Linked DNA regions of Homo sapiens. The protein of the gene in region 2 interacts with the protein of the main gene of each other region in a pairwise test. Each region holds a gene or a part of one and is shown on either strand. Other genes may lie near its edges. The genes, in order: CDC25A, DMD and HNF4A.

Region 1 (3,655 bases), on a different chromosome or scaffold from region 2:
CAATGACACGCTTGCCATCAGTAGGTACAATGGGCTTCTTCAATAAGAAGTCTTCAACCTCTTCTTCCATGTGCAAGTTCACTGCACCCTGTGAAGACAACAGAGACCCTTGGAACCTGCACGTTTCACACATGAAGTAATGATTCAGCAAGATGTAATGATTCATCAAGAGTGATCTTTAAGTCCACAAGACCAGTTTGTGATTTTTGCAGTTCTTCTAGCTGAATAGCCCAGTAGACCATTTGGCACCTGTATCTCAATGGAGCTTTGTGGGTCCGTACACGTTCATCATACAGTAATGCACATGGGGACTGGAAATGGGCAATTCAAATATGACAATGGTACACTTTATAGGTAGTTTTATAAATTTGGGGATTTTCAAAAGCCACAAGACAATGGCAAACAGTAACATCGTATTTAAAGTACCTCCTTACTATATTTAAACACTATTAATCGGGTAAAACATTAAAATGGCAGGCCAGGCGCCGTGGCTCATGCCTGTAATCCTAGCACTTTGGGAGGCTGAGGCGGGCGGTTTGCCTGAGCTCAGGAGTTTGAGACCAGCCCGGGCAACATGGTGAAACCCCGTCTCTACTAAAAAAAAAAAAAAATTAGCCGGGCGTGGCAGCGTGCACCTGTAGTCCCAGCTACTTGGAAGGCTGAGGCAGGAGAATTGCTTGAACCCAGGAGGCAGAGGTTGTGGTGATCCGAGATCATGCCACTGCACTCCAGCCTGGCGACAGAGCGGACTCTGTCTCAAAAAAAAAAAAAAAAAAAGATTAAAATGGCAAAATCAGTTCCTTTCTTCTTGGGAACGTGTGTCCCAACACGCCCCTCCACCAGGCAGCTTGCTGAACAATCAACTTTGGAGGCATCACTAGGCCTGGCACAGACACCAGGACATGTTGCCAGAGATGGTCTTCTCCTCATCAGGAGCCCTGGGGTGCTCAGACATTGGTACCCAAGCCTCTTAAATGCTATGAAACCCATTCTTGTCCCCCGAATGACTTAAACATCAGTGGGTACCTCCTACAAGTGTCCTTGATAATGATGGTGTGAGGGACAAACATGAAGAATAACTGTGCACAAGGTGGTAGAGAGTATTGCAGACAAGGGAACATTCGTTAAGAGCACCCGGAATCAAATGCCTTCCACACTCACTGTATTGTTTCAAAATTCTAACAACTAGCATATGAGCTAAGTGGCCAGGTGTCACTGTCCTCCCCACTTTAAAACCACAGATCCTGTTTAGGGCTCCTTCTACAGCAAGTCTCAGGAATCCATACCTTGATGTGGCCTCCCTCGTATTCATATGGGTATCGACAGTCGATGATAACAAACTCTTTAATGAGGTTGGCAAACTTGCCATTCAAAACAGATGCCATCTGTTGAGAGAAAATTAGGGAGAATCAACTTTGACCGTCAGGGAAAACTAGATTCAAGTACCCGATGTGTGGTGGGTTTCAAAAGGATGGACTTACAATTTCTGGAGAGATGTATTTTAAATCCTGATGTTTCCCAGCAACTGTATGAAAGAGATAACCCTTAAAAAGAAAAAAAGATACTTAGAGAATCTGAAAGCCTATATATTATTCACACTTATACTGTTTTGTCTGGCTGGTAGGAGGCATCTTTTAAAAAACAAACATTAATGGCCAGGCACGGTGGCTCACACCTGTAATCCCAGCACTTTGGGAGGCCGAGGCTAGTGGATCACCTGAGGTCAGGAGTTCGAGACAAGCCTGGCCAACATGGTGAAACCCCAACTCTTTTAAAAATACAAAAATTAGCCGGGCGTTAGCATGCACCTATAGTCCCAGCTACTCGGAAGGCTGGAGTGGGAAAATCGCTTGAATCCAGGAGGCGGAGGTTGCAGTGAGCTGAGATTGCACCACTGCACTCCAGCCTGGGTGACAGAGCAAGACTCCCTCTCAAAAAACAAACAAACAAACAAGCAAACAAACATTAGTTAGTACACACTAGTTACTCTTCTAGTTACTTCATTAACATCCTGACATTTAATTTTCACACAAACCAATGAGGTATATTATCCCCATTTTGAGCACCTTATCCAAGGTTACCTAGCTAGTAAGGCAGATTTAAATAAAGAAACCTCAGGTAATCTCATTTTCCTCCTGCTTTTGTCAAGAATCCACACGTCAGTAGTTAGACTGCGAATAGCACTTAAACATACAGATTTCACTCATTTACTGAGCACCTGCTATGTCCAGCATGGTGCCAGGCACTGGGGATAGGAAAAAAAGAGACCTAGCCCAGCCTTGAGGAGGAAGATGCACACATTAGCAATTACTCATTAGGGTGACTGGCTGAGCCAAGAGTTCATCTATCCCCATGCATAGGCCCATTAAGACAAATATAACCAGGCCTCAATTCAAGTTGAAAATTCCACTGAGTGTGGTGGTGCATGCCTGTAGTCCCAGCTACTTGGGAGGCTGAGGCAGGGGGAGCACTTGAGGCCATAAGTTTGAGGCTACAGTGTACTATGATAGCATGTGCGAATAGCCACTGCACTACAGCCTGAGCAACATAGTAAGACCACATCTCTCCCTGCCAAACAAGAGAAGGTTCCAAAACTGAGGATACAGCTGGATCTTTGCTTGTTCTCTTCATTCTCCGTTCCTTCAAAACCCATTTGGGCTGAAATATCAACGGCCCAACCCCAGACGTTCCCCAACCCCCTAGCCAAGATAAACCCTTTTACTTCTCACGGCATGCTGTTTATGTTTACACCTCACTAAAATTTATTTCAGTCTACCATGTGGTACATGTAGTTCACGTCTCACCTCTCCAACCACATGCTAAATTCTTTGAGGGAAGGAACTGTATCTCATTTTGGAATCTCTGCCTAACACATAAGTGCTTCAATAAATGTTAACTAAATTAATGAATAAAACATTGATCTGGTAACCTTCAAGTCAAAATGTGATTAAAGAAGCTGCTATTGACACATTCCCTGTCCTAGCCTTGTATTTTACTGCAGCCAAGCCTTCATGTAGTATATCAGGCTATTAGAAGATCTTCCTCTAGACTTCCTGGAGGGTCTTTTCCCTCAATGGCCAAGCTTCTCTGAACGGAGAAATTCAGTCTCAATCCCAGACCTTCTAAGATAACCTTTCAACATGCAGACTTGTAGTGTGGCTACAGATTTATTTCTGCTGTACACTATCCTGCTAATTACTATTTTTATAATAACACAGTTCCCAGAGAGCCTAGTCTTTGGGTTACAATCAAGGTGGTTGGTGGACAGCTCCCTACCTAAAACTGCCCATCAGCTATAGTGATATCTACAGTCTCAGAAACCAACATATACCTGATCATGAGAAACTAAGTTTGCTTCCCTACCTTTAACATTCTTTTAACTGTGTCCTTTTGGAGGTATGCCAGGAACCACCCTGGGGAGGGAGACAGGCTGAGTGGGATTCTAAATACCCACACTCCCTCCTACACTTGCCAGAGCAGCTCTGCTTGCAATTACCTTGGAGAAGTCTCCTATAAGGTCCCTTGGGTCATTGTCCAAAATGTTCTCAATGGTTCCTTTGGGGGAAGATGCCAGGGATAAAGACTGATGAAGAGTCTGTAACAAATCAAAGGTAGAGAATGAGACAAGGGTTCTGAATGGAACTTCCGAAAACAT
Region 2 (3,655 bases):
CTATACCAAATCATGCTCTAAATGCAAAACAATTAACTATTTGAAAAAAGAAAACAGCAAGTGCATGCTTTCAAATCAATGTGATAAGACTAATTTAATAAATCAACAATGGGAGGAAATCAGTCATCATGCTCTTTACAAGCACACTCAATATCTTCTGTGATTAATAGAATTACTCAAAATGCCATTTTATAATTCATGGGAACATAAGCTCTGCATGCAGCTTTCATTTCTACAGAAAGTAGCAATTAGGGTTTTATTCACAGGTTTAATTCGAGCGAAAAAATAATAAATATCAGGGAATTTCTAAAAATTTCATTCCATTGGAAAATTTTGACCTTCTCTAAAATATTTCATAAGGACCAGAATTGGAACTATTTGACAGGTTTAAAAAGTTATTGAATATGTTGGTATAGATTGGTTTGGCGAGTAGTGTTGACGATTTTGATTAATCACTTATAGCCTGTATTTGCAAGAATGAACTACATTTCATTATCTAGTTTGTTTAAAATTGGGAATTTAAACCTTGCTGTACTTTATGTTTTATGTTGAATTTTCAAACCTTCTGAGGAGTCAGATCGAACGCTGCTTTTTTCAAAGGTAGCAAGATACAGCCACGTGAATTAGAGTTGAGCCATGCCTTATTTGTGACATAACTCACATCTTTGCCAGGAGAAAGGGCTTGGTGGTCATCAATCTGAAACATCTTTCATTTCCTAAGCACAAAGTGATGTATAATATGTAAAATATTTAGAGATGTCATGTAGATTTCTTTAGAGGAATGCCAGATGACCATTAAACACTGCTATTCAGTAGGACACACACCATCATACGACCAGTGTAGATACTTCTGAAAGCTTGCTCACAGTTGGAAGGGTGTGAGTTACATAGCGTTCCGATTTTCTAGACACATTATGGTGTGCTTTTGCACTCCCTCGAGGAAGAGGCCTTTTCTGTTTACTATATTTATCAGCAGTTACCTTCAGAACACCTGCTGGCCAATTAGACTTTCCTTGTGGATTCCTTGCAGGCACAATATTGTGTAATTACATTCTCAGCAGTGTTTATTTGGTTGACTATAGGGGGAAAGGTTTTATTCTCTTATTTGCATGTAGAAAGCAGACTCCATCTACCTGCTAGGTGGATCCACCTTCATAACTACATAGCTCAAAAGAGTGATTTACAAGGAAAAGCTCAGCAATTAAAAGTATTAGAAAATCAGCCATGCATGCAAATAGTGATTATTGCAAAGCATATACAAAAAAAAAGTTTCACAAAACTTTCCACATGTCTAGTCTCAAGAACTTCCTAGATATTATTATAGAAAAATTAAGTTTATCCTGCTCTTCCTGCACAAACCAGATGAGTCACCTGGGGACTTGAAGCCATACACTACACTGCTTAATATGAAAGTAGCAGTTCTTATTCAAGGGCACTAAGATTATTTTTTAGGATTCCTACATAAATGAAATTTGACTTTGTAGATAGTTGCAAAGAGTGACTTTCTTAAAGGCATAATAAAGTTTTAAAAATAAATAAAAGAATCTAGGGCTTATTAAACAAGTATCAGGTTACCAAAAAATTGGACCTAATGCAAGCAAAATCAATTAAGTAAAGAAAGCAGGAATAATGGATACATGTAGATCGGTTATTCTGGCAGTTAGGCAGGTTTTTTTCAATATAAAGTAGCTGATAAAAATAAAGCACATTAGAAAATTAAATGTATAAGTACTATGAATGCATTCCCATCTTTCAATTACTACTTAGAAAAATATGTCTTTAAAAAGCCATAACTTTTAAGCAACACATCGTTCAAAATCAAATACCACTCAAAAATGTTAAATAAAGCATACACATTGAACAGAAAAAGTGAGTTTCTGATGACTAAGTCTGAAGCAGATTTTATTAATGCACATTATATTTTACCCTATATATTAAAAAAAAACCACAGGCAAGGTATATTATAATTTTAGCTCTAATACCTTGAGAGCATTATGTTTTGTCTGTAACAGCTGCTGTTTTATCTTTATTTCCTCTCGCTTTCTCTCATCTGTGATTCTTTGTTGTAAGTTGTCTCCTCTTTGCAACAATTCTTTTACAGTACCCTCATTGTCTTCATTCTGATCAAAAACAACAAGTACAGTCTTCATTTTGGTTTTTAAAAAGCTGTACATTGTTAACAGAGATAATAAGACATGTTATTTAAACACACACAAAAATCCAATTTAAAACTTTCATGGAATGCTATTATAAGATACTGTGCTCATAGCCTTTCTTTTACATTTGGTACTTGAGGTTTCAAAATAAGTTTCCTCCCATCTAGTTGTAAAGAACACATTTTTAGGGGCACCTGTAGAAAGATGGGGGAGTGTGGTACTTCATCATGTCAGACAAGTCATGAATTACTGTGAAAGTATTCTTTTGGCTTTTTTAGTGTAGTTCTAGAAATTAAAACATTAGAGAAATGAGCTAAAGTTATCATTTATAATGTTAACTGATCCATAAAGGAATACAGATGTGTATTTGTGACTGAGATAACAGCAAATCTGAAAATATTAACACACAACTACATGAAAATATTTTGATTTAAATGTACACTAATTCCTATCTAATAACTCCTGCTTCATTTCTGAAACCTAAATGCTCAATATTAATAGGAGAAATATCAGGATATTAATAAAAATCATGTGCTAAGTTACCATCAAATAATTTCTAAAATATGTCATATATGCATGTTAATTTAAATACGATCAAATAATACTAAAATATGGACTGGAAAATGGCTTTAAACATTTTCAATGGGTATTTTGTTCCTTTAGGCTGCAAGAACAATATCTTAATTTTCTTTACTTAGAAATAAAATGTTTTGAATAAATGCTGGTCTAATATAGTCGCATATATGACCATGTGATTTTTCACCTTTAGTTTTCTTTCTTTCAACTCAGAATGTGAAAACTTTGTATCAAGTAGTCTCACATTGTAATGGTACTCAAGGTACACTGATGACATAAGGAAAACAAATAATAAATTTCAAAAGTCACAAGTATTTGTATGTGTGTATTACAATTCAAGGAATTAGATGTTATATATTTAAATCTATAATGCATAAACTTCAACACGCAACTGAGGACTGATTCATTTTGTATGGGGGAAAGGGATTATTTTTGTCAGAGACTGGTCAATAATCTAAAGAAACATACGGCATAATATAGACACATTATATACTTATCATAATATAGACACATCATATACTTATAGTCTGTAAAAGACTTTACTTATTTTAAAAGGTGTTGTAAAAGTCTGTAGCATTTTCTAGGGCTGAGGACAAAAACAACAAAAAATTAAAAAACCCACTTCACTTCTTTCCCTATACCAGTTGAGGGCTCTAGGGCAGAGTTGGGGTCAGCCCAAGAGGTAATCAGTACTTTTTTTCATCTTGGTGCCCTCTAGTTTCTTCTTTGACCTGAAGTAGAGATTGCTGTAACTCAGCAACTTGGAAAGCCTCTTCCGTCTTTCCACAAGCTGAGTTGGCAAGGCCACCAAACCCCATACATGGGGAGTATTGATTGAGGCAGCTCCAGGAAGTGGGAACTAAGATTGGTGGGAATAGTTCTCCTATTGCTTCACACACTTATTACCTAAAATTTATATATTG
Region 3 (3,655 bases), on a different chromosome or scaffold from region 2:
GAACATCTTCACCCAATGGGTTACCTCATCCAGTGGATTGCCTCATCCCAACAATGGCTTCATTCAGTAAAGGCTGTCAGTCACCTTACTGAATAAACAGCCTCAACAAATGGACAATCTTGCCCTTTATTCCCTACCCTGGAACCCAGAAAACTGTTGCATCCTGGTTCTACCTTCTAGACTCCACTTTCTCCTGCCTCCTGTCTTAAGCCCCATCCTCACCCTTTGCAAGGTAAAATCCCAGAGTTTGCCCACCTGCCTGTCCCCTGGGTCGGGGCCACTCACACATCTGTCCGTTGCTGAGGTGAGTGGGCATTGTGTTGGCAACGATGACGTTGGTTCCCATATGTTCCTGCATCAGGTGAGGGTGCAGGGGGTGGTGGGCATGGGGTGCATCGCTGGGGGACCCTGCAGGTAGAGAAGGTCGATCAGGATGGAGAGTCTGGGATGCAGACCTCAGGCCTTGGGACGCCATCTTCCTCAGGCGTGGCCAATCAACCAGCCCATCCAATATTGGCAGTGCCTGTTGGGTACCTATTCCTGGGTTAGTAAACTAGGGTGTACCATTCCCATCTATAGACTTCATGAGGGTGTTAAGAGGACCCCAAAAAACCAAGAGAACAAAAGTGAGTTGAAAGGAACAAGGTGCATATAAGGAAGCTCTGAGATCACGTAAATGTTCTAATGAGTAGTGTATTGGTCACATAGTAACATAATGGATGTAATCAATGGCTCTCAAAGCTCCTTGGAGTGCAAGTCCTTCAACCATTTGGTCCCGCCTCACCTTTCAGCCTCATCCCCCACATCTCTGCTGCAGCCAACTGACCTACTTATAGCATCTATGTGTCCCCTGTGTTTTTCTATCTCTATGCTTCTGCTCACGTTGTTGCTTCTGTCAGAGATGTTTTTCCACCCCAAACCTGTTCCATGTCCATAAGCCCAAATCCCAGCTCATATATTTCCTCTCTTTAGAAGCCTCTCCTGATTCTCCTTCCTTGGATTTCTCATAGTAATTTGTCTGTAACACAACTTTTAGGAACAACCACTTCTTCTGTCTATGAGCATTACAATTTCAGAGGTATTTTTCTTCTTTCTTTGAGGGCCTAGCAGATTGTCTGGAACACAGTAACCGCTTCAAACATATGTCAGGGAGTAAAAATACCACATGGGATATGGTTTAATAATAGCCTATGGTGAGTAATATGACGATGATGGAATTTCAACGCTTGCAAGCGATCTCTACAGTACATCTATTTCAGTGATAAATAACAATTGTTGATAATTAACAATTATCACGTGCCAGGTACTGTTGTATAGCACTTCCCATGTTTCACATAATTTAATCCTCACAGCAATCCTATAGGATGGATACTATTATTAGCCCATTCTACAGATGAGACAACTGAGCCCAGAGAGCTCTTAATTATTTGGCAACAGACCACAGGCTCCTGATCCTGATCTCAATGACACCTGATTCATAATAACCCCATGTTCACAGGGTCAAAGTGAGAATGAAATGAGCTATCACATAACAGCGATTCCCAACTGGGGATGATTTTGGCCCATCAGGAGACATTTGACAATATCCAAAGACATTTTTGGTTGTCACCACTGGAGAAGTGCTACTGGCACCTTATGGGTACAGGACAGAGATGCAGCTGAACAATGTACAGGACAGCCCCACACAACAAAGAATTGTCCAGTTCCAAGTATCAATAGTACCAATGTTGAGAAACCTCACCCTCGCCTTGTCATCTTCAGTCACTGAAACACCTCCAAAATCTCGAATTCAACATCCCCACTTTGACTTCACCTCATGTCCTTCCAGCTCCCGTAATCTAATACCATCGCTGCAAAAATTCTTCAGCCCTACTGAGACTGTCAATTCACTGACACTCTCTTTTCACTATCACCCCATCCTTTTGTTGTTGTTGTTGAGACAGAGCCTTGTTCTGTCGCCCACGCTGGAGTGCAATGTCATGATCTCAGCTCACTTCAACCTCCATCTCCCGGGTTCAAGTGATTGTCCTGCCTCAGCCTCCCGAGTAGCTGGGATTACAGGTGCATGCCACCATGTCTGGCTAATTTTTTTTTGTATTTTTAGTAGAGATGGTGTTTTGCTGTGTTGCCAGGTTGGTCTTGAACTCCTAGCCTCAAGTGATCCACCCGCCTCGGCCTCCCAAAGTGCTAGGATTACAGGTGTGAGCCACCGTGCCCGGCCTCTATCTTTATTTCTTTTTGAGTGCAGCCCAGACTCCATGACCTATCATTCTAATCACTCCCTTGCAGTCATCCTAACTCCTTCATACTCCCCTTCATAGTCAAACCATTTCAAAGGGTTATCTACTCTATCTCCACCTTCCCACTCACTCTCTTTGGAGCACTCTCCAATCTGGTTTCCACTCTCCCAGCTCTCTGATGCTGCTTTCAACACAATTGCCAAGAGCCTCCAGCTGTCAATCCAATGGACCCTTTCCTCTCTCTTCCCCTCCTCTCTTCACCTCTCCTTTCTTCCCCGCTTCTTTCTGTTTCTCTGTAGAGTTTAACACCATTAAACACTCTGTCCTTCAAACACGCTCTTCTCTTGGATTCTGGAATTGCCCTGGTTTTCTCCTACCCCTCTGGCCAGTCTTCTTCCCTTCCCTCCATGGCTCCATCTTCCCCCTGATTCCACAGAGCTGCCTTTAATCTTGTGCTTGAGCAACAGACTCATACATTCAACAGCCTCCTTGATAACTTGGATTTGTAATAGTCATCTCATGCTTAATGAAAGTCCACAATGAGGCTGGGCATGGTGGCTCACACCTGTAATCCCAGCACTTTGAGAGGCCAAGTCGGAAGGATTGCTTAAGGCTAGGAGTTCAAGACCAGCCTGGGCAACATAGTGAGACCTTGTCTCTATAAAAAATAAGAATGAAGAATTAGCTGGGTGTGGTGGCACGCACCTGTAGTCCCAGCTACTTGAAAGGCTGGGGTAGGAGGATCTCTTGAGCCTGGAAGGTTGAGGCTACAGTGAACTATGATTGCGCCACTGCACTCCAGCCTGGGTGGCAGAGAGAGATCTCGTCTCAAAAAAAAAAAAAAAAGGAAAAAAGAAAAGAGGGTCCACAATGGATCTCTGAGGTCACCCCTCACTACCACCCCCAGACCCAGTGTCTTGTTGTTTATTCTGTCCTCCTCATTTCAGTAAATTACTCCATCGTCATTTCTGCTACTCAAAGCAAAAATGTAGACTTTGTCCTTGACTCTTCCTCTTTCTCTCACTCCCTATGTCTGATCAATCAGCAAATCCTGTGGGTGTGGGCTCTTCCTCCAAATAGATGATCAGGTTTATCTTCACTGCTCCATTGCCAGGGTCCAAGCCTCCATCATCCATCACATGATTGGAGACAGTGACATTCTCAGGAATCTGCAATTCACTCTCTACCCAACAGAGTGGTTTGTTTGAAGCATTAGTCTGGGATGGGTGTGGCGGCTCACACCTGTCATTCCAGCACTTTGGGAGACTGAGGTGGGTGATCACTTGAGGTCAGGAGTTTGAGACCATCTTGGCCAATAGGGTGAAACCCTGTCTTTACTAAAAATATAAAAAAATGAGCAGGGCGTGGTGGCGGGCGCCTGTAATCCCAACTACTCAGGAGGCTGTGGCAGGAGA

What was found.
Region 1: the proteins of DMD (region 2) and CDC25A interact in a two-hybrid assay, tested with the Homo sapiens proteins (one large-scale study listed by BioGRID and IntAct).
Region 3: the proteins of DMD (region 2) and HNF4A interact in binary tests that used the Homo sapiens proteins (3 or more experiments, as listed by UniProt).

Annotation. Positions count from the first base shown.
Region 1 is NC_000003.12:48,164,350-48,168,004, forward strand, and holds part of CDC25A (M-phase inducer phosphatase 1), read right to left. Parts: intron 3,596-3,655; coding exon 3,497-3,595; intron 1,545-3,496; coding exon 1,482-1,544; intron 1,386-1,481; coding exon 1,287-1,385; intron 89-1,286; coding exon 1-88. UniProt on the Homo sapiens protein: Tyrosine protein phosphatase which functions as a dosage-dependent inducer of mitotic progression. Directly dephosphorylates CDK1 and stimulates its kinase activity. Also dephosphorylates CDK2 in complex with cyclin-E, in vitro.
Region 2 is NC_000023.11:32,343,961-32,347,615, forward strand, and holds part of DMD (dystrophin), read right to left. Parts: intron 2,121-3,655; coding exon 1,983-2,120; intron 1-1,982. UniProt on the Homo sapiens protein: Anchors the extracellular matrix to the cytoskeleton via F-actin. Ligand for dystroglycan.
Region 3 is NC_000020.11:44,425,088-44,428,742, reverse strand, and holds part of HNF4A (hepatocyte nuclear factor 4-alpha), read right to left. Parts: intron 409-3,655; coding exon 256-408; intron 1-255. UniProt on the Homo sapiens protein: Transcriptional regulator which controls the expression of hepatic genes during the transition of endodermal cells to hepatic progenitor cells, facilitating the recruitment of RNA pol II to the promoters of target genes. Activates the transcription of CYP2C38.